Linked DNA regions of Homo sapiens. The protein of the gene in region 1 purifies or fractionates together with the protein of each later gene. This does not show direct contact. Each region holds a gene or a part of one and is shown on either strand. Other genes may lie near its edges.

Region 1 (7,080 bases):
CACCCACCTTGGCCTCCCAGAGTGCTGGGATTACAGGCATGAGCCACTGTGCCTGGCCCTTATCTGAGGAATTTAGAAGGGAGCAAAGACCACCTGGTAACCATCCAACAGGCCATCCAGAGGCAAAACTCCTTATCTGGGGAAATTAGAAGTAATTAAACTTCCCTAGTATCTAAAGTGGGCATCTGGTTCCAGGCCTCTTTCAACTTTTATAAGTAACTAAAATTTCTAGGCATCTCTGGAATGTCATGCTGAAACTAATTTTACAACCCTAAGCTCCTGCCTGAAGGTCCATAAATGCACCTAAGGAAAATCCACCAAGGCCCTCAGTCCTCTCGCTGGGGTGCCCCGCTGCACTCTTCTGCAGCGTTCTTTCTTTCTAAGAAATTTTCCTTTTTCAAACCTATACTGTTGTCAGTAAATTTTTTGCCAACCTGTGAGGCGACCACTTCCTGGTGCTGGGGCTCAGACACCTCACCAGGCATTTTGTGTTCTAGTGTTCTGCGTTTCCTCTTTGGCAATTAAGCTCACACACACACACACTCAACTGTCCCAAAGAAGAGAGTCACCTGATTCTAGTTATTCCGAGGGCTGTGTAAGCACTGATACACACACACACTGTCACACTTACACACATGCAACTGTCCCAAAGAAGAGAGTCACCTGATTCTAGTTATTCCAAGGGTTGAGTAAGACGTTAGTCAATCTCTAGGGAAGCCCTGCTGCTGGGCACTGGAGCTCAGAAATTTATCTCAAAGAATTAGAATTCATAAGGAGCTCTGTGTTTTGGAAAGAGGACACATTGTTTAGGACAGTTTCCATTCCAATTGTGCAGCATGAAATAGAAAAATTTAATAAGTGGGCCAATCAAGTATCTGGAATCCTTTGGATAAATTCATTTATTCAATTAATCCATACTGAGCTCTGGCTGGGCTCTGGACAAAATGGGAAGCAAAATTACTTTACAGCCATATAATAGAATAGTTTGTAGCCATTCAAAATGATTGTATCGATATTTATTGACCTGGAATATGTTCATAGTATGGGTAAACTTACAAACAATATATTATGAACCCAATAAAAATATATTTCAGGGATTGGCTGGGTGTGGTGGCTCATGCCTGTAATCCCAGCACTTTGGGATGGTGAGGCAGGCAGATCACCTGAGGTCAGCAGTTCAAGACCAGCCAGGCCAACATGATAAAACCTCGTCTGTACTAAAAATACAAAATTAGCTGGGCGTGGTGGCGGGCATCTATAGGAGGCTGAGGCAGGAGAATCACTTGAACCCAGGACATGGAGGTTACAGTGAGCTGAGAGCACGCCACTGCACTCCAGTCTGGGTGACAGAGCAGGAAAAAAAAAAAAAAAAAAAAAAAAAAAATATATATATATATATATATGTATATGAAAAAATCGGAAAGGTTCTACATCAAAATGGTAAATTTCGTGTTATATATATTTCACTATAATAAAAGATTGTAACAGTGGCTATCTCTGGATGCTGTTTTTATTATTTGTATTTTTTAGTTTTTTTGCAATGAATATGTGACAAGTAAAAGAATGACTACAAATAAAAGGAAACATAAAAAATTAAGTCTGATGCTCTTTTAAAGCCCATCTGATTCACTCTTGACTGCAGCTTTCTCTCCATCCACCCATCCACTGGAGCCGGCTTTCTGTGTCACTTTTTAAAGTCCATTTTTTTTTTTTTTTTGAGACGGAGTCTTGCTCTAATGCCCAGTGCAGTGGTGTGATCTCGGCTCACTACAACCTCTGCCTCCCGGATTCAAGCGATTCTCCTGCCTCAGCCTCCCAAGTAGCTGGGATTACAGGTGCCCGCCACTGTGCCCAGCTAATTTTTGTATTTTTAATAGAGACAGGGTTTCACCATTTTGGCCAGGCTGGTTTTGAACTCCCGACCTTGTGATCTACCCACCTCGGCCTCCCAAAGTGCCACCGCACCTGGCCTAAAGTCCATCCTTTAAGGCAACCATACTGTTGGGCTGGAAGCCAGGAGAGCCCCACTATAATAGGGCAGGGAGCCAGGCTAGGAATTGGAAACAGTAAGAATGCGAAACAGGATGAGGATTTGAAGACCCTCTTAAAAATGGGGGAAAAAAAAAAAGACTGCATTCCAAAAATAATGCAGAAAGTCAAGTCTTGGGAGGAAGGTTTGGTCTTAACGGTGAAATCTGGAAAAGGTATAGGAAGTACAATACTTGAAAAATACCCTGCAAAGATTTATTTTGGCTGGCAACATTCAGTAGATTACAGCTGTTTCTGTGGTTATTTTTGTAGATTAACATGGACCAAAATATGGCATCATCTTACTGGGTGTGTTCACTTCCCGACAGTTCTAGAACATGGTACTCGATCTGTCCTTGTTGCCTTCTAAACTATTCGAAGCAGACGCTGTATCAGACTTTCTAGCTTCTGAAATAAAGGCACAGGAATTACAGGGAAGCAGAGCAAGTGATCTGGGACGTGGAGGGTTTTTCTTCCATTGTGTGCAGTTTGGAAAGTTGCCATCTATTCAGGTTTCACTCAAACCGGCTTTTTCCAGACCCCAGAACAAATTGTAGCCAGAAGCTCTGCTCTTTGTCAGGAGGCAATTATACCCCAGACTTAGCCAGGAACTTGCCTCTTCCCTTAGAGAACAACTTCTCTTTATGTATAAGGATCCTGGCTCTCCTTTTACCCAGGGGGTTGGGATACAGCCTCTAGTTCTTTCTAGAAAGACCCCAACTGTCCCAGGGTTTCCATTTTGTTTTTTACCATTGCACAGGTCTCTGGATAATAACCTTCCTAATAGCGACTGAAATGTCTCACAGCCTTTCCTCGTTTTTGTTTCTCTTTAGCTAAAGAAAGCAAAAATAAATAATCCCCATCTTCATTGTTGGAAACCCCAGGCAATTAACCTTTTGAGGAGCTTCACACAAGATACAGATCTGTGAAGCCACATAGGTTGGCATTGAGTTTAACCCCTTGCCCAGAAAGTTAAGGTTAGGAAGCTTGGTTCCTATTTTCTGTTCAAATACTGCTTTCCTTTGTTAGAGATAAACTTTCTTTTAAGGCAAATAATCACTTATATGATAGAACCTTTAAAATAATCCTGTTGACTACAAACAGGATAGTGCAACTCTTCCAAATCTTGAATGTGGTGGTGACTGCATGACTGTGTATGGGTGTCAGAACATAAAACTAGCCACTAAAAAGGCTAATTTTTGGGGGGAAACCGTCTGCTCTGTCGCCCAGCCTGGAATGCAGTGGCACGATTTCGGCGCACTGCAGCCTCCGCCTTTCTCAATTCTCGTGCCTCAGCCGCGCCATCATGCCCGGCTAATTTTTTGTATTTTAGTAGAGGTGGGGTTTTGTCATGTTGGCCAGGCTGGTCTCAACTCCTGAGCTCAAGCGATCATCCCGCCTCGGCCTCCCAAAGTGGTGGGTTTAAAGGCGTGAGCCACCGCGCCCGGCCTAAAAAGGCTGATTTTTACTGTACCTAAAGTCTACCTCGATTAAGAAAACGAGGCCGGGTGCGGGTGAGGTCAGGAGTTCGAGACCAGCCTGGCCAACATGGTGAACCCCCGTCTCTACCAAAAATACAAAATTAGCTGGGCGTGGTGGCGCGCGCCTGAGCGAGAGACTCCATCTCCAAAAAAAAAAAAAAAAGTAAAGAGGTCGAAGCTGTCTAAGCGGACGCTGCGGTGGACTAGCGGTCAAGCTTGCCTGCGAGCGGCTCACCTGAGTCACCCCCAAAACCGGCCTCCAGCAGCATACCCGACCCTGCAGTACCCCCTCCCACGCAGCCTGCGATCGGGACGCCTGCAGGAGGCGCCAGAGTCTTCGCGGGGGTTGCAATCCCGCGCAAGGGCCCCCGGCTCCCAAGGCATCCGCAACCTTCCGATCCCCCGGGAAGGCCCTGCACGTCTCGGCCGCTCCCTGCCAGCAGCCCGCCCCGCCACTACACTCCGCCGCGGCCGCGCTGACGTCACCACCCCGCCTCCCCGCCTTGCTCCGCCGTTCCCGCCCCGCCCCCTTTCCCGGCGTGCGCCGCGGCTGAGGCTCCTCGCCCTCAGCTTCTGCCTGTCGCCCCAAAATGGCGGACACAATGAGCCGGCGACGCGCCGGTTGTCCGTGAGGTGGCTGTGAGGACGAACGGTCGGCGAGGCTCCACAGTCCAGGCAGAAGACCCTCGACCAAGCAGGAAGAAGAGGAGGAGGCGGCCCAACTGTTGGCCGACTTCCCGCTAGCCGCCGGCGCGGCGCCCGCCCCGCCTGGGTTGGCCCCTCGGCAGCCCGCCCGCTCGCCGCCGGGCCCCGCCCCGGCCCTGCGCCGCCGCTGCCTTCCCCAGCCGCCGCCATGAAGCTGACCGACAGCGTGTTGCGGAGCTTCCGCGTCGCTAAGGTGTTCCGCGAAAACTCGGACAAGATTAACTGCTTCGATTTCAGCCCCAACGGCGAGACGGTCATCTCGAGTAGCGACGACGACTCCATCGTGCTCTATGACTGCCAGGAGGGCAAGTGAGTGCGGCGGAGGCCCTGGGCCCGAGTCTCAGTGCCTCCCTCCGGTGGCCCAGCACAGGTCCCTCGGCCTGCCCTCCGTCCCGACTTCAGCCCCCAGCCTATTTTGCACGCGTTCCTGCCAGGGCCGCCTCCACCCCGCAGCCGTCCAGGAGACCTTTTATTTTTTTCTTCTTAAAAAAAAAAGATAACGATAGTCATAATTTTATAATATTATTTGTATGTCTTCGGTCTCCTTTGAGCGCTATGCATCACTTGCCAAACCCCACCTTGACCTTGACCTTTAAACGCCCGGTCCGCCCACCCTGGGCCCACCAGGTAGCGTTTTCAGCTCCTCAGGCTGTCAAAGGTGCTGGTCTGCTCCGGCCTCGACGCAGGACTGCAGGGGCTGCTTTTCTGCCTCCTTCGGCAGCGTCAGCTCTCTCTTGTGCTCTCTCCACTGTGACCTCGATTCCGCCCTGGCACTCCGCCCATCCCCTGCCCCTCAGCTTCCCGCGGCCTTTCTGCCGTCAGACCGCGTGGGTTGCACTTCTTAGCTGTCAGGATTTATTTGTTGTGCCCCTTTGAGCCCCCTTGCTTTTTCTTCCTGCTCCTAGCCTTTCTCTTACTCATTCAGACTTGGTGCCCACGTTCATAAGTGAACTTTTCAGCAACATCTAAAACTTCCTTTTTGCCACACACAAACGAACTTGGTCGTCCCATCCTGACCTGAATGTGAGCTTCCGTTAAAACAAAGCAAGCATCGTAGAACAATTTCAGGTTTCCTTTCATACTTTTTTTTTTCTATTACACTTTTTGGTCCACTTTGAATTCCAATTCTGATCATGAAACTTTTATGTTGCCACAAGTCATCTGGAGACCCACCATACCTGCATCTTTTCGCAAAATCTAAGCACAGCACTTTGCCTTTTTCCCTGGGGGTCCTTGTCAGCCCTCCTCACCGCACGCCTGTGGACTTGCAGCTCCTTGGAGCCAAAAACTAGTTTAGATTAAATTCGTTTTACCCTTAGCCACCTTCCCCAAGAAGGCTTGCTGATGTTTGGTTTAATTCGGTGGACCCTGGTTTTTTCAGACTTGATTTTGTCACCTAGTAACAGATATTATTATTATTATTATTATTATTATTATTATTATTTGAGATCTTGGGTTTTTCTCCACCTTCTCCAGCTGTTCCTTTTTCCTTTTTTTTTTTTTAGACTGGTGTCCTTCTTTTGGAACATATCTCTTCATTTGTGAATTTGATTATCTGAAGTAATGCTAGTTTGGACTGAGCTATAATGGTATCCCCCCAGTTTTTTTCCCCACTGGGGCTGTGAGAAAGTATTATGTAACCGGCTCTGGATCTGCCTGCAGTTTGTGGCAGAGTGGTCTGCAGTGGTGGTCTTAAGGAAGAGGGAATTGTTAGCTGGACAAATAGTTATTTGAGTCAGTGTTACTCATTGAGTAGATGGATTTCTGTCCTGGTCTGGTCACTTGAATCAGTTTAGAAGACGAAGTAACATTTAAAGGTGTGGTAGTAGGGTCAGCATTGTGGGGTCCTGGAGGAGTAATTTGAAGCTGGCTTGCATGAAATGTATAGTGCTTATGCACAGATTAGAACCTCTTCCCAGAACCTGAGGGTGGAGATGTATATCCTCATTTAAAGGAAATGAAGGTTGTTATAGCATTTCTTTGCAGTTTGTCCCCAAATTTGGCGTAATTTTGATTTGGGAAGGATGACCTTGACATGAAGTCCTGTCTTTCTTTTTTTTGTTTTTTTTTTTCGGGTGGGGGACGGAGTCTCTCTCCGTCGCCCAGGCTGGAGTGTAGTGGCGCGATCTTGGCTCACTGCAACCTCTGCCTCCCGGGTTCAAGCGATTCTCCTGCCTCACCCTCACAAATAGCTGGGATTACAGGCGCCTGCCACCATACCCTAACTTTTGTATTTTTAGTAGAGATGGGGTTTCACCATGTTGACCAGACTGGTCTTGAACTCCTGACCTCAAGTGATCCACCCGCCTTGGCCTTCCAAAGTGCTAGGATTATAGGCATGAGCTGCTGTGCCTGGCCAAATCCTGTCTTGTTAAAAGTAAAATGCTAGTTTTGTGACATAAGGCAGTTTATTTACTCGTAGCATTTTTACATAATTAGAAACTAACAAAGTTACAGTGTTTCAAAGAACTCCCATATGATTCAATAACTGGTTACATTTTCTGCATTTGCTTCATGACTGTAGGTAAATATTTATATGTACTGTGTGCCTCCCCCCACCTTTAGAGTTGGAGGTATCAAGCCCCTTTATCCCTAAACACTTCAACATGGATTTTCTTTCTTTTTTGAGATGGAGTCTCGCTCAGTCGCCCAGGCTGGAGTGCAGTGGCGTGATCTTGGCTCACTGCAACCTCCGGCTCCTGGGTTCAAGCGATTCTCCTGCCTCAGCCTCCTGAGTAGCTGGGATTACAGGTGCATGCCACCATGCCTGGCTAATTTTTGTATCTTTAGTAGAGGCAGGGTTTCACCATGTTGGTCAGGCTGGTCTTGAACTCCTGATCTCGTGATCTACCCGCCTCAGCCTCCC
Region 2 (7,027 bases), on another chromosome or scaffold:
CAGCCTGACCAACATGAAGAAATCCCGTCTCTACTAAAAATATAAAAATTAGCTGGGCGTGGTGGCGCATGCCTGTAATCCCAGCTACTTGGGAGGCTAAGGCAGAAGAGTCACTTGAACCTGGGAGGCGGAGGTTGCGGTGAGCCTTGATTGTGCCATTGCACTCCGGCTTGGGCAACAAGAGCGAAACTCCGTCTCAAAAAACAAAACAAAACAAACAAAACAAACCAAGAGTTTGTCCTTAGTCTCTTTTCCTGGGGAATACAGGGACATCTAAAGGTTTAAACCTATACCTCTCCTTTGAGAGTTAGAGCCAGCCCAAGCAACTGACCTGAACCACACCTCCCACCCTGTAATGCAAATCAAGCAGCTTAGGGAGTTTACCACAGGGCTTGAAATGAAATGTAAATTCAACAAATGTTTGCCTTCTCTCTGCAGAGGAGTGTTATCTTTTCTCCTAATAATTTCTGGTTTCTCAATGACTGGGTCTAACACTGACTATGGTTCACCCTGTTGCATATTTCTTTAGAGGTCCTTCACTAGGGGGTTCGGAAAGTTTAACAAACTTCTCCCGCCAGGCTGAGGAAGGAAAATTGCTTGAACCTGGGAGGCAGAGGTTGCAGTAAGCCAAGATCGCACCATTGCACTCCAGCATGGGCAACAAGAGTGAAACTCCGTCTCAAAAAAAAGCAAACTCCTTCTTACGAAAGGCTGAAGGGCAATCTCCAAAAACCACCAACTCCCATTTCCAACAGCAATACTACTACTACTACCACCACAGGATGAGTATCCTTAATCCAAGATGCTCCAAAATTTGGAACTTTTTGAGCACTCACATGATGCTCAAAGGAAATGCTCACTGGAGCATTCTGGATTTCAGATTTTTGGATTAGGGATGTTTAACCAGTAATTATAACACAAATATTCCAAAATTAAAAACAAAAACAAAAAACCTGCAACACTTCTAGTGCCAAGCATTCCCGGTAAGGAATACTTAACCTGTATTATAAAAACAGAGCTGCTGTCTTAGCTCCCCAGTGACAGTGACTTCCTCTTTCCCCAAGGTCAGCTTCACTTCTGGATACTTTTTTTGAGGTGGGGTCTCACTGCATCACCTAGGGGGAATGAAGCGACGCAATCTTGGCTCACTGCAACCATGGTCTCCCAGGTTCCAGTGATTTTCCTGCCTCAATCTCCTGAGTGTCCGCGACTACAGGTGTGCACCACCACAGCTAATTTTTGTATTTTTAATAGAGATGGGTTTTCCCCATGTTGGTCAGACCTCCTGACCTCTTGTGATCAGGTTGAACTCCTGACCTCAAGTGATCCACCCACCTTGGCCTCCCAAAGTGCTGGGATTACAGGCGTGAGCTACCACGCCCCGGCTTTGATTCTTTAGTTATGCCACATACTCCAGCTTCTCCTGCTGATTCCTGCTGGCTTCTCCATCAAAAATCAGTTTGTTTCCTCCTTTTCCCTCTCAGCACTTTAAGCGTGGGCCTGCCTCTTTCTATTCTCTCTTCATTTCCTCCCTAAGGCTACCTCAGACCACTAGGAACATCTGGCTCCTGAAAGGTTTAGCCAGGGTAATCGCCTAGCTTCCAAATCCTAAGATTCTGAGCCATAACCTGTAATGCGGTTTCGCATTACTGTACATCAGACAGCTACGGCAGCAGAAACAGATCAACAAACACTCATGTTTTACCCAACAACATATACCTCAGCCTTTCCATCACATTTACAAAGTTAAAAAAAAAAAAAAAAGAAATGGTAGTATAAAGTACTTATGTACCTGGAAAACAGGCAGTGGTTTTTAAATTGTCCCATGAAAATCAACATTTGAATACAACTTTTCATTTTAATAAAATTAGTTAAGTATTTTATATATATATTAAATGTCTGCAAGCCTTCAACCAAAAGCCACCTATGTCAAGGGCACTTTCATGCCCACAAGTAGACTGGATGGCAAATTATATCTGCCTGATGAGAGAGAGGAAGCTTGAGCATAAGATCTACAAATTGTGTTGATGACCAAACAGGAGTCGAAACTGATACCAACCAACACTGATCTTCTAAGTCATTTTTTAAAGGCCTCTGCATTAAGTAGAAACCGAAACTGATGCAGCCAGTATCATTACATTAGGATACACGTCACAAAAATGAGGTCAACTGGATTTGAATTCATCAGTGCAAACATGAAAAGTATTTGCTGGGCTAACAGCTATGTAAAAGGAATCCTTTAACTCAAGAGCAGGCCAGGCACGGTGGCTCACGCCTGTAATCCCAGCACTTTGGGAAGCAGAGGCGGGCGGATCATGAGGTCAGGAGATCGAGACCATCCTGGCTAACACAGTGAAACCCCGCCTCTACTAAAAATACAAAAAATTAGCCGGGCGTAGTGGCGGGCGCCTGTAGTCCCAGCTACTCGGGAGGCTGAGGCAGGAGAATGGCGTGAACCCAGGAGGCGGAGCTTGCAGTGAGGCGAGATCGCGCCCTGCACTCCAGCCTGGGCGACAGAGCGAGACTCCGTCTCAAAAAAAAAAAAAAAAACAAAAAACAAAAAACTCAAGAGTAACACTTGGAATAAGTATCCAAAACACAGTGTTGGCTGGGTGTGGTGGCTCATGACTGTAATCCCAGCACTTAGGGAGGCTGAGGTGAAAGGATTGCTTAAACCCAGAAATTACAGGTGGTAGTAAGCTATGATCCCACCTCTGCACTCCAGCCTAAGGCTCTGTCTCAAAAACAAACAAAAAAAACCCATCACACCTGCCTTGCATTTCACTACCTAAGGAGTAGTAACTGGCTTACTGGTACTTCTCTGACACAGAATCACTGTTAATATTGAATACCTTTCATGTACAAGTTCAATGCTATCAGTCAGTCCAGAACCCATAGAATTTTTGTCCCTGATGATTCCTGCCACCCCATCTTATCAGCTGGATCTCAAGGTCACAGACCAAGCAAACATCCAGTTGTGGGAAAGGGTGGTAGTAGAAGGGCTCAGTTTGTGAATATAATCTTTCTAGGATGCACTTCTAACAAATGTGCTAGCTCAACATATCTATGTGAATTGAGATGGAAAAACACTGCATCTGGAGACTCTAGGTTACGATGTGGTCTAGGGGAGGGCCACAGGGACAACCCTTTGCTGATATCCCTATAATCATATTAGCAAATGCCAAGTACCTGAAGTTCCTTAACCACCTCTTCACTCCAAACCTGAAACCCGTCCTGGCAGCAATGATGAGCACAAAAGGAAGGTGAAGGTAAAGATTCAAAACCTTTTCTGACTTGAAACCCTTTACTGAACTGATATTTTCAAAGCTTTTTTTTTTTTTTTTTTTTGAGACGGAGTCTCACTCTGCCACCCAGGCTGGACTACTGTGGTGTGATTTTGGCTCACTGCAACCTCCGACTCCTGGGTTCAAGTGATTCTCCTGCCTGAGCCTCCTGAGTAGCTGGGACTACAGGCATCTGCCACCACGCCTGGCTAATTTTTGTATTTTTAGTAGAGATGAGGTTTCCTCATGTTGGCCAGGACGGTCTTGATCTCTTGACCTTGTGATCCACCCGCTGTGGCCTCCCAAAGTGCTGGGATTACAGGCGTGAGCCACTGTGCCCAGCCTATTTTCAAAGCTTTAAGAACTGTGTTTTGTCAATAGTCAAATCGAAGTATACCTTTAATTAAACAATCCAAAATGGGTCACAAAATGTGTAAAATACTGTAAAAATAATCTTTGTTCAGCACATTTTAGTTTTAGGAAAGTTATTGCCATTCTTCCTGGGTGTGGATATGCCAGAAGGAGAAAAACTATAATAATTTCAAAAACTAATTATTTACGTATTGCAAGATTCCATTTGCATGCAATATTCTCTAGAAAAGACAAAAAGTAGATTAGTGGTTGCCTGGGGACTATGGTGATGGTCGCATAACTCTATAAATTTACTACAAATCGCTGAATTGTACACTTTTAACAGAATAATTTTATGGAATGAAATTACATAATAAAGTTGCTTAAAAAAACTATTTGGAATGGTTCTCAGATTTCTACTAAGAATTAAGTTATCTGTGAATACAACAATTTAAATCTTAAAGCAACCATTACCATGATCATTACTTCCTAATCTGATCATCACATCATAAAAGAATCCAAGACCTTATTTTATTACAGCGGCAGTGTTATTTTTCTACCCAAGAGAGAAAAAACTGGCTGGGCATCATGGCTCACGCCAGTAATCCCAGTACTTTGAGTGGCCTAGGCGGGCAGATTCCTTGAGCCAGGAGTTTCAGATCAGCTTGGGCAACAAGGTGAAACCCCATCTCTTCAAAAAAATACACAAATTAGCCAAGCGTGGTGATGCATGTCTGCAGTCCTAGCTACCTGGGAGGCTGAGGCAGGAGGATTGCTTGAGCCTGGGAGGCAGAGGTTGCAATGAGGTAAGATGGTGCTACTGCACTCCAGCCTGGGCAACAGAGTGAGACTCCGTTCCCCCACCCCCCTAAAAAAGCTAAGCTAAAAACAAGTTGATGAAATAGAAAACATGAGAGATGATACCACTGCATCTAAACTCTCACAATTCCTAACAGAAGTATGTGATAATTGTTTATGATAAATATCTTAATTTCAATAACTCTTCCTTAGATATAGAAAAGTACTTACATTCATCATAAAATCCATAAATTCTGTTGATGCTGGCACATTCATGGTTCCCTCTGAGAAGAAAAAAATTCTCAGGATATTTTATTTTGTAGGCCAGTAAGAGGCAGATCGTCTCCAATGACTGCTTTCCCCTGTCCACATAGTCCCCAAGAAACAGGTAGTTGCTTTCTGGTGGGAAACCACCGTACTCAAAAAGTCGCAGCAAATCATAGTATTGTCCATGGATGTCACCTGGAAGCAAGAATTTTGTTACACAGTGTTCCCATACTTAAAGCTCAATCCACTAACAAAGCTTTGGAAAGACATTCTTTAAATATTCATTGTACAATGGCATTGACCTCTAGTAATGAGAGTTTAACTGGGCAGCCAACACTAAGTAATTTCCAATCTTATATCATATTTAGTTCAACTGAGCTTAACAAAAATTTTAAGTATATGTGTATGTCCAGAACCTCACATAAAATTCAACTATTAAGAATTTATTCTGTGGAAAGGGTTATTATGTCCAAGCATGCATTCTTGCCAAGTAACATGGTATCCCTTTCAGGCTGACTGATCAATATCAGATCTCTGACAGCTCAGTCTCTGGGTACTGTGTCAGCAGAACTGCTGCACTTCTAGTGAGTCTTGGCCCCATCTGAACAAAAGCACATACACACATACACACCACCCCCACCCCCCACCCATCAATGCATTTAGCTTTCAATTTCTCCCTGCTAGATAATGCCAAAGAACATTTTACTTTTAAAAACATGAACACAAAGTTTTATCAATGCAAATATGCTATAAGAATATATTACTCAAACGAATAAAGTTTGGTTTTACATTGAGTTAAAACACAGATTATTTGCTTCTATTATGCAGAAAACAGAACCACAAAATCAGTATCAAGGAAGTTCTATTTTTAGCTATAACCAGTGTTGCTTTAAACTTAAACATATTCCTATACATCCATGTAGTTCAGACCTTTCCTCAGCTCTCCATTCTTAGTTTCATTTTTTTCTTTTGCAATGTTTATTCCTTCAGCAAAATATTTTTTTTAAAAATCTGAAGTACATCTAAGTAAACTAAGTCCATTAGAGGTATTTATTCTAAAGCTACTATTTAACTTACTTTTAAGTAGTTCCAAGCTATTCGCAAACAGGATAATCATTCTGCTAGCTAATACAAGGTCATCAACATATCCTTGACTCAGTTAATCAATCATGTAACAAAAGATAACCTGTGTGCCCCAAACTTACCACATATTTTGAGTGGTGCTTCAAGTTCTAGTAGGATAGGCTGACTGAGAAAGATTTCACGAGACTTTAAGCACAGTCCTCTGATTTCATTCTCCTGAAGCTGGACATTCTTACCAGGCTTGGACCCTCTCACTGCAAGAGAAAAATCGCAATTAGTCCAATGAAGCCAAAATACAAAATACAATACGAGATTTAGATAAAGGGGCAAAAACATGGTTTAACTAGCTTTCTGAGTGGCTTCATTTTCAGGACACTTATAATAAACATGGTTTTAATGTCTAATTAGAATCTTAAAATCTTAGACAAGACTTAATTGCATCTTCGATACCAAGTAAGACTTCTTTTATAGTATTCCAAAAAAGGAGCCATCCTGTCTGTGCGAATGCTGTTAGAAACAGGACTGCAGGCCAGATGCAATGGCTCACGCTTGTAATCCCAGCACTTTGGGAGGGTGAGGCGGGCAGATCATGATGAGGTCAAGAGATCCAGACCATCCTCGCCAACATGGCGTGCACCTGTAATCCCAGCTACTCAGGAGAATCGCCTGCACCCGGGAGGCGGAGGTTGCAGTGAGCCAAGATCGCGCCACTGCACTCCAGCCTGGCAACACAGCGAGACTCCGTCTCAAAAAAAAAAAAGAAAAGGAAAGAAAAGAAAAGAAAAGAAACAGGATTGGAAATACTCAGAACCCTCCCCCATCAGTGTTTTCCAGAGGACCATGGGTATCTCCTCCTGAGGATCTCTGATTTAATTTACCTATGAAAAAATGTTAGTGTTGTTTTCATTTCATTAAGAAAATGTTGGTTCATTGTACTTATTTTGCCATGCATTTTCTGGGCCTGCATTTGTGTTTATGCTCATGTCTATATAGGGCAAAGGATGTCAGTCATGTGCTATACTGTAAGAAAGCACGTTCCCTAATAATTTGAACAGATAAGATAATAATGGGAGAAAGAAATCATTGCACAGCATGGGGCATCCACACCACCAGAGCACTTAGGGTTCTTCTATCAAAGTACAAACTTTGCAACAGAACTCACTTGTCAGCACGTAGGTAGTTGTGGGAAAGAAATTTTGTTTTGGTTCCAGTTGTAACAGACTGGATAGTCATTAGATACAGAT
Region 3 (6,638 bases), on another chromosome or scaffold:
GACTACTTTTTTCTGTTGCACTGTATTACTTGCCTTTGTGGTTTTGTCGAGAATCAGTGTTTACATGATAGACCATAAATTACTGTGCCTTTTAATAAATTTGTACAATAATCTATGAAAGTTCTAGATGTTTAGCTGTGATGTCACTGGTTTTGTAGGAAAAATTTGGCCTGTAAATCTGCTGAATCATTCTGATTAGGCAGCTGTAAAAATTAATACATATTTTAACTTGCCGATCCTATGCCAGGCTTCACTGAAAAGCCTCCAGGAACAGACCTTAGGTTCCCACCTTTTTGCATATAGTATCTGAAAGGAATGCTGAACCTATTAGCCTCAGGCCGTTAGTTTGTTCTCTCTTACACACACACACACACACACACACACACACAAACCCTCCCCACCCGCACCCCCTGTTCACTTGCTATCTTCCACCCTGTATACCCCAAACAATGTGGTGTTGTAAGTAAGATTTCATAATCACATAAACTAGCAAAGATCCCTAAGAGGAAAGAAGCAAAGATTTATGGTCATTTTTGTAAAAATAAGGTTTAATAAAACATCAGCAATCTGCATGAGAAGGTAAATTACAATGAGAAACTTAAAAAGCTTACGGTCTAAGTCAACCAATGTAGAAGGTAGTGGTTGAAGAAAACAAGCTTTGACTTTTAAAATTTCCTAACCAGGGGATTTATTTAGAAATTCTGGCATTCAAATGTACATGTAAAATCCAATTTAACAGATCAAAATTGTTACACTAAGTTTCACTTAGTATCTAAGTATCCAATCACAATTGTATCTAAGTTTCACTTTTAAGAAACATTATAAAGGTAATTAAAACTCTAGGTGTATACTTATATGGAACTAGTTTATTTCCTATTTAACTACTGTTCATTGCGTAAAGTATGTTGTCCCAATTTTCAGCTGTTTTAAGGAATTATAAAACATTGAGATCTACTAGGAAGAGGGAAAGCCTACTTCTAAGTGATGCCACTAGTACAATCAGGCTTGGATTAAGTCTCTTCTCAGGGGCAGCTTTGATTTAGCCATGGACTCACAAGGAAAACAAGAGGTGGATTTGGTTAGGGAGCAACAGCAAATTCAGCCCGACCATATTCCTAATCTAAACACATTTTCAGCATAAAGATGTAAAAACAATTTTTTTTGGTTCAAAAGTTATGGTTGCCATGGAGACAAAAAGAATATACCTGAATTTATAAACTGAGATATATTTCAGCTCCTTGGCTTAAAATAATACATCTTTATATTCTTGAGACATATCTCAAGATGTTCCTTGCTTTGCCTTGAATAAAAATTTTTTTGAAAAGCCTATGTTTCTCGTGAACACACTCATACTTCAAATTTACCACCTATTTTAAGCTTTAAAATTCTTCTTGCCAGCATTTTTCAGCTAAAAAAAATCATTTCACGAATGTTTAGGTACTTTTTACAATGAAGGGATATGGCAGCATGGATACTGGGTAGCTGGCTAGGCTCTAAATACCTGATGACTCAACGCTTTGCACAAACCAGTCTTGCTGATTATTAAAATTTGTCCCTGGGCAAAATTAAAGCAATGCATGTTAAGGCTTCAAATGCAAAGGATTCACTGTAGTTGATTCTTTCAAGAATAGAAATCGACCATAACTTTGCTTTATAATCCATGTGATACACCACATTATAACAGATATCTACTGTGTTTCATGATTTCTGAATGTCATAACATTTGGATTAAATTGTATACAAAAAAATCACTAACCTGAAAAAAATCAGAGGAAAGAACAATATAAATTAGTGACACTGGAATTACAGAATCATTTTCTCCTAAGAAACAAAGTTTTATTTATTTCAAGTCGTGTTGCCAAGCAAATATTTGTAAAGAACACATTTTTATGACTGGAGGCTGTTTAAGTGGTTTTAAGAGTGCTTGAATAATTTTTAAACATGATAAATTTCCATCCTTTAAATTTAATGACCAATATTAATTAGCTTAAGTAGTGATTATTTTTTCACATTTAGTCTTTAAAAAAAAAAAAAAGGATTCCTATTAACCAACATACTTAGTCTTGACCTGGATGAATTTACAAAAGCCAGACAATGGGATACAGATTAATGTGGTTTAATACTGAGATTAATCAACATTGCCCTTTTTCCCTGCCAAAGGCTTATTTTCTAGACCTGCTTCACTATGACTACTAAAAGTGTACAACTAAAATTTTATTAGAAATCGCTCAGCTTACACACTCCAATCAGGAAGTTATTTAAATCACCTCAGATAAAACCTTTGTGACCTAACCTAATACATCATATGCAGATCATGAATACTTTCAGAAAAGAATCATTTCAATATGTCAAGGACATAGTATCTATGTGAATAAAATGTGTGCTTAAATGTCTCACTGTAAGGAAAAAAAAAATCAGTCAGGCTTCATATCAATTAGACAACTTTTACTAAATGAGAAAACTACATTTAAAATGTGCTTTAAAACAAAACGGAATTAGAAAAAAAGACATATGCATTTTAAAGAACTTTTGCACTGTGCTGAAAATGAAATATCTCTTGCAGTAAGTAATACAATGTGCCAATTCATAAAATGTAAGTTAACAGGTTTCTCAATTTAACATTTTCAAAGACGATATTAAGGTCAAAAATGTCACATCTATGGTAGCACATATAGAAGGGCATTATAGATATGATGTCCATCCCTATGAAGCTTACAAATTTGACAATGCTCAATAAAAGCTTTTAGAATCACATCCAATAGTGTCACAGTCAAAGAATCACAAATCTGTGTCCTGTAAGTTCTCTCCTTCTAAAATCTTCATGTTAACTTTTCTACTCATTGCCATTTGTTAATACTAACCCTTAAAAAAAAGAAATAGGAAAAGAAAGGCTGCAATAAACTTGATCAGGTACAGAAATTATTGCTACTATACTTCACTACAAAGCTTGTCTATACAGTATCATATGACCTTTGATTATGAAAAAATCAGAATAAAAATCTTTAGTGACATAAGCCTTACAATCGTATACAACATTCACATGGCAATATTAGACAGTTAAGCACCCAATACCCATAGTTGACAAAATGTCCCACTGACCAGCATTCATTTAAATACATCCTTCGTATAGAGGGAGGAAAAAGAGACAGTGTCAGCTTTCCAAGGCTTGTCAAAAAAGGATTCTCATGTACTGTGGATCTAAAAACAAACAACAACTCAAAAAAAAAAAAAAAAAAAAAAAGAAAGAAAAAAGAAAAAGAAAACCAATGCAGGTGAAGGTGTTACCAGGAAGTTAAGCATGCCAAAAGGTGTTCCGTGCGAATGAAAACCTAAAGCCAAGGTACCACATAATCACATTACCAACTAGTTGGGTAATACTATATGAGCCTTATCTTAAATGAAATGCTACTGCACAATAGAGCATCAATAAGTTAAAAATTAGAGTGCACAAATCCAAATCAGTGTCAATTCCTGTATAAAGCAAAATATTCACTATCAGCTGTAAAGTTTGCCCAGTCAAACTGTATGATTAAAATCACTGGATTGGACAATGTGCGTATTTTTTTTTAAAACAATCAATCTCTAAAATTCCTTTTTAATGTAATGAGGCGAAAGTTTTCTTAGTAAGATTAAACAGATATCTAAGTAGATAAACAAGGGAAAATAATAGTTGGTGAATGTCTGTAAAGCTCTTCCCATATTTCACTTTTAAAAATGTTTAGGGAAAAAAATTAGAAGTATTTGCCATTATTCTAGTGAAAACAAACAAAAACAAAACAAGCTCAAAATAATTAAACAACCAAGCAACACTAAAACCACATTACACAGATGGATCATCATGCTTTCATCTGGTTTAACTATCACATCTAGTTTAACTGGGATGCTTTTCAACTTTAAAAATTGTGATACATGAAGATGTAACTTTAATGGATAATTTTGAATTTGGATTTAACTTTGTTGACTATAACAGAGTATACTTATTACAATACAGTGTAGCACATCTTTCTATTAGAAAAAAATTTAAGATCCTTTACCCGTCTCCTTAAGTTAAAGGTGTGACATCATAAAGGGTGTCAAATGGCTGGATGGTTTTACAGTGCACACTTATATATTATGAAGTATGTCCTTAACAAATCTGATGGTTTCTTTACAGAATTCCTTTCTTCACCTTTTCTTCGGCGGATTAGCTGTTCGAGGTGGAGTGACAGGACGTCCAGAATTCAGTCCACCATACTGGTATTTAGCTTTCTTTTCAGATGGTTTCAATATCTTAAAGTAAATTATTAACAAATAATGTTATTTTTTCATGTACAGAAGTTAAGAAAATTGTTACAATTGTGATTTTCAATAAATGGCATAAACTGCAAAAATGCAATAAAAATGTAGAATAGCAAAGTTCCATAAACATTTCTTAAAGTGTGCAAATGTCTGAACTTTGTCATTCCACTCATATTTTAATAACAAAAGTACACTAACTCTATCAACTATCCAATCCTTAGATTTAAGTAAAAAACTTTTTGAACTTAGTGTATCTCTGTTGTGAGGAAAAGAACACTGGTTTAAGAGTCAGAAGATCTATGTTGTCATCATAATTCTGATACAGTAACTTAGGAGGGTAACTAACCTACAAGTCACAAACCCTTCAGACCTTATTTATTTATGTATAAATAGATCTTTTTACTTAAAAAACAGCTTTATTGATATAAATCTAATTTTAGAACATTTGTCACCCCAAAAAGAAAGCTTGTTCCCATCAGCAGTCACTCCCCATTCCTGCTCTCCACATCCTCTAACTCTAACCAACTACTAATCTACTATGTGTCTCTATAGAATTGCCTATTCTGAACATTTCATATAACTGGCATCATATAATATGTGGTCTTTTGTGACTGGCTTCTTTCACTCAGGTTTTCAAAACCAGTTTTGAAGTATCAGTCCTTCATTCCTTTTTATTGCTGAGTTGTACATTGTACAGTCCATTGTATGGATGTACCACAGTTTATCTATTCAGTAGCTGATGGACATCTGAATTGTGTGACTTTTTCGGCTATAAGGAATAATGCACATTTATGTAACAGTTTTTGTGTGAACATGTTTTCATATATCTTGGGTATATACCTAGAGGTAAAACTGCTGCATCATATGAGAACTCTATTCCCACCATTAATGTATGAAGATTCTAATGCCTCCAAATCCTTGCCAAAACTTGATACAGTCTGGCTTTTTTACTACACTCATTCTGGTGGATGTAAATAGAGCTTTAACCTACATTATACATAAAAAAGTCATGATTTTCCAAAACTAAAACAGTATAGAAATATGTACAAAGTATTTTTTAAAAACTATTTAGAACATAATAGTGCCTTAGTGAAGAGAATATATTAATCCAACACCACTATGACAACTGCTGGAAGGATAAGGTATGGTTACTATATTTAATTTGTAAATGAGCAATCAACCATTTACCATTCAATTGTACTAATTGATGGAAACAGTATATTATGATAAAGAGAAAGAGGAATGGGAAAGCCCCAATGCATTTTAAGAGAAATACAGTGTGTGTACATCAAAGACATAGAATAGCCTTTGCAAAAGCAAAGTACTGAAGCTGTTTTACTCAGTGAACAAGAATGATTTGTAGGAGCACACTAAAGCTAAAACTGGCCTCTTTTAAAAATGTAAATGTTGAAACCAAAAGTTGGTTCTTCAAAAGAATAAACAAGATAGACTGCTAGCTAGATTAAGAAAAGATCCAAATAAGCACAATCTGAAATGAGAAAGGTGACATTACAACCAACCCCACAGACATACAAAATACCTAGAGATTATAAACACCTGTGCACACAAACTAGGAAACCTAGAATAAATGAATACATTCACAAAAACACACATGCGCTCCCAAGAAATGAATTCATAGAAACACACATGACCTCCTAAGAAATGAATAAATTCATAGAAACACACACAAACTCCGAAGACTGAACCAGGAGGAAATTAAAATCCTGAACAGAACAATAACAAGTTCCAAAACTGAATCAGTAATAAAAAAACCTATAAACCAAAAAAAGCCCTGGCCCAGAAAGATTCACAGCTGAATTATATCAGATGTACAAAGAGCTAGTACCAATCCTACTGAAACTATTCCAAACAATCCAGGAAGAGGACCTCCCCCCTAACTCAGTCTACGAAGTGAGCATCATTGTAATACCAAAACCTAGCAGAGGCACAAGGAAAAAAGAAAACCTCAGGCCAATATCCCTGATGAACACAGATGCAAAATCGTCAACAAAATACTAAAACCGAATCCAGCAACACATCAAAAAGTTAACTCACCACAATCAAGAAGGGTTTATTCCTGGGGTGCAAGGTTTCAACATATGCAAATCAATAAATGTGATTCACCTCATAAAATTAAAAACAAACACCATATGATCATCTCAATAGATGCAGAAAGGCTTTCAATACAATTCAACACCCTTTCATGTTAAAAACCCTCAACAAATTAGGCACTGAAAAATTAGGAACATACCTCAAAATAGTAAGAGCCATCTGACAAACCCACAGCCAACATCGTACTGAAAAGGGAAATGCTGGAAGCATTCCCCTTGAGAACTGGAACAAGAGACTAGGATGACCAT

Evidence for each region. The genes of interacting proteins can lie anywhere in the genome.
Region 2: the proteins of WDR82 (region 1) and PPP1CC purify together in Homo sapiens (affinity purification with mass spectrometry; 5 studies listed by BioGRID and IntAct, with this or other methods). This does not show direct contact.
Region 3: the proteins of WDR82 (region 1) and PPP1CB purify together in Homo sapiens (affinity purification with mass spectrometry; 5 studies listed by BioGRID and IntAct, with this or other methods). This does not show direct contact.

What each region holds. Positions count from the first base shown.
Region 1 is NC_000003.12:52,275,644-52,282,723, reverse strand, and holds the start of WDR82 (WD repeat-containing protein 82), read left to right. Parts: upstream 1-4,074; 5' UTR 4,075-4,362; coding exon 4,363-4,523; intron 4,524-7,080. UniProt on the Homo sapiens protein: Regulatory component of the SET1/COMPASS complex implicated in the tethering of this complex to transcriptional start sites of active genes.
Region 2 is NC_000012.12:110,725,865-110,732,891, forward strand, and holds part of PPP1CC (serine/threonine-protein phosphatase PP1-gamma catalytic subunit), read right to left. Parts: intron 6,038-7,027; coding exon 5,906-6,037; intron 4,896-5,905; coding exon 4,665-4,895; intron 1-4,664. UniProt on the Homo sapiens protein: Protein phosphatase that associates with over 200 regulatory proteins to form highly specific holoenzymes which dephosphorylate hundreds of biological targets.
Region 3 is NC_000002.12:28,796,830-28,803,467, reverse strand, and holds the end of PPP1CB (serine/threonine-protein phosphatase PP1-beta catalytic subunit), read right to left. Parts: intron 4,270-6,638; coding exon 4,165-4,269; 3' UTR 528-4,164; downstream 1-527. UniProt on the Homo sapiens protein: Protein phosphatase that associates with over 200 regulatory proteins to form highly specific holoenzymes which dephosphorylate hundreds of biological targets.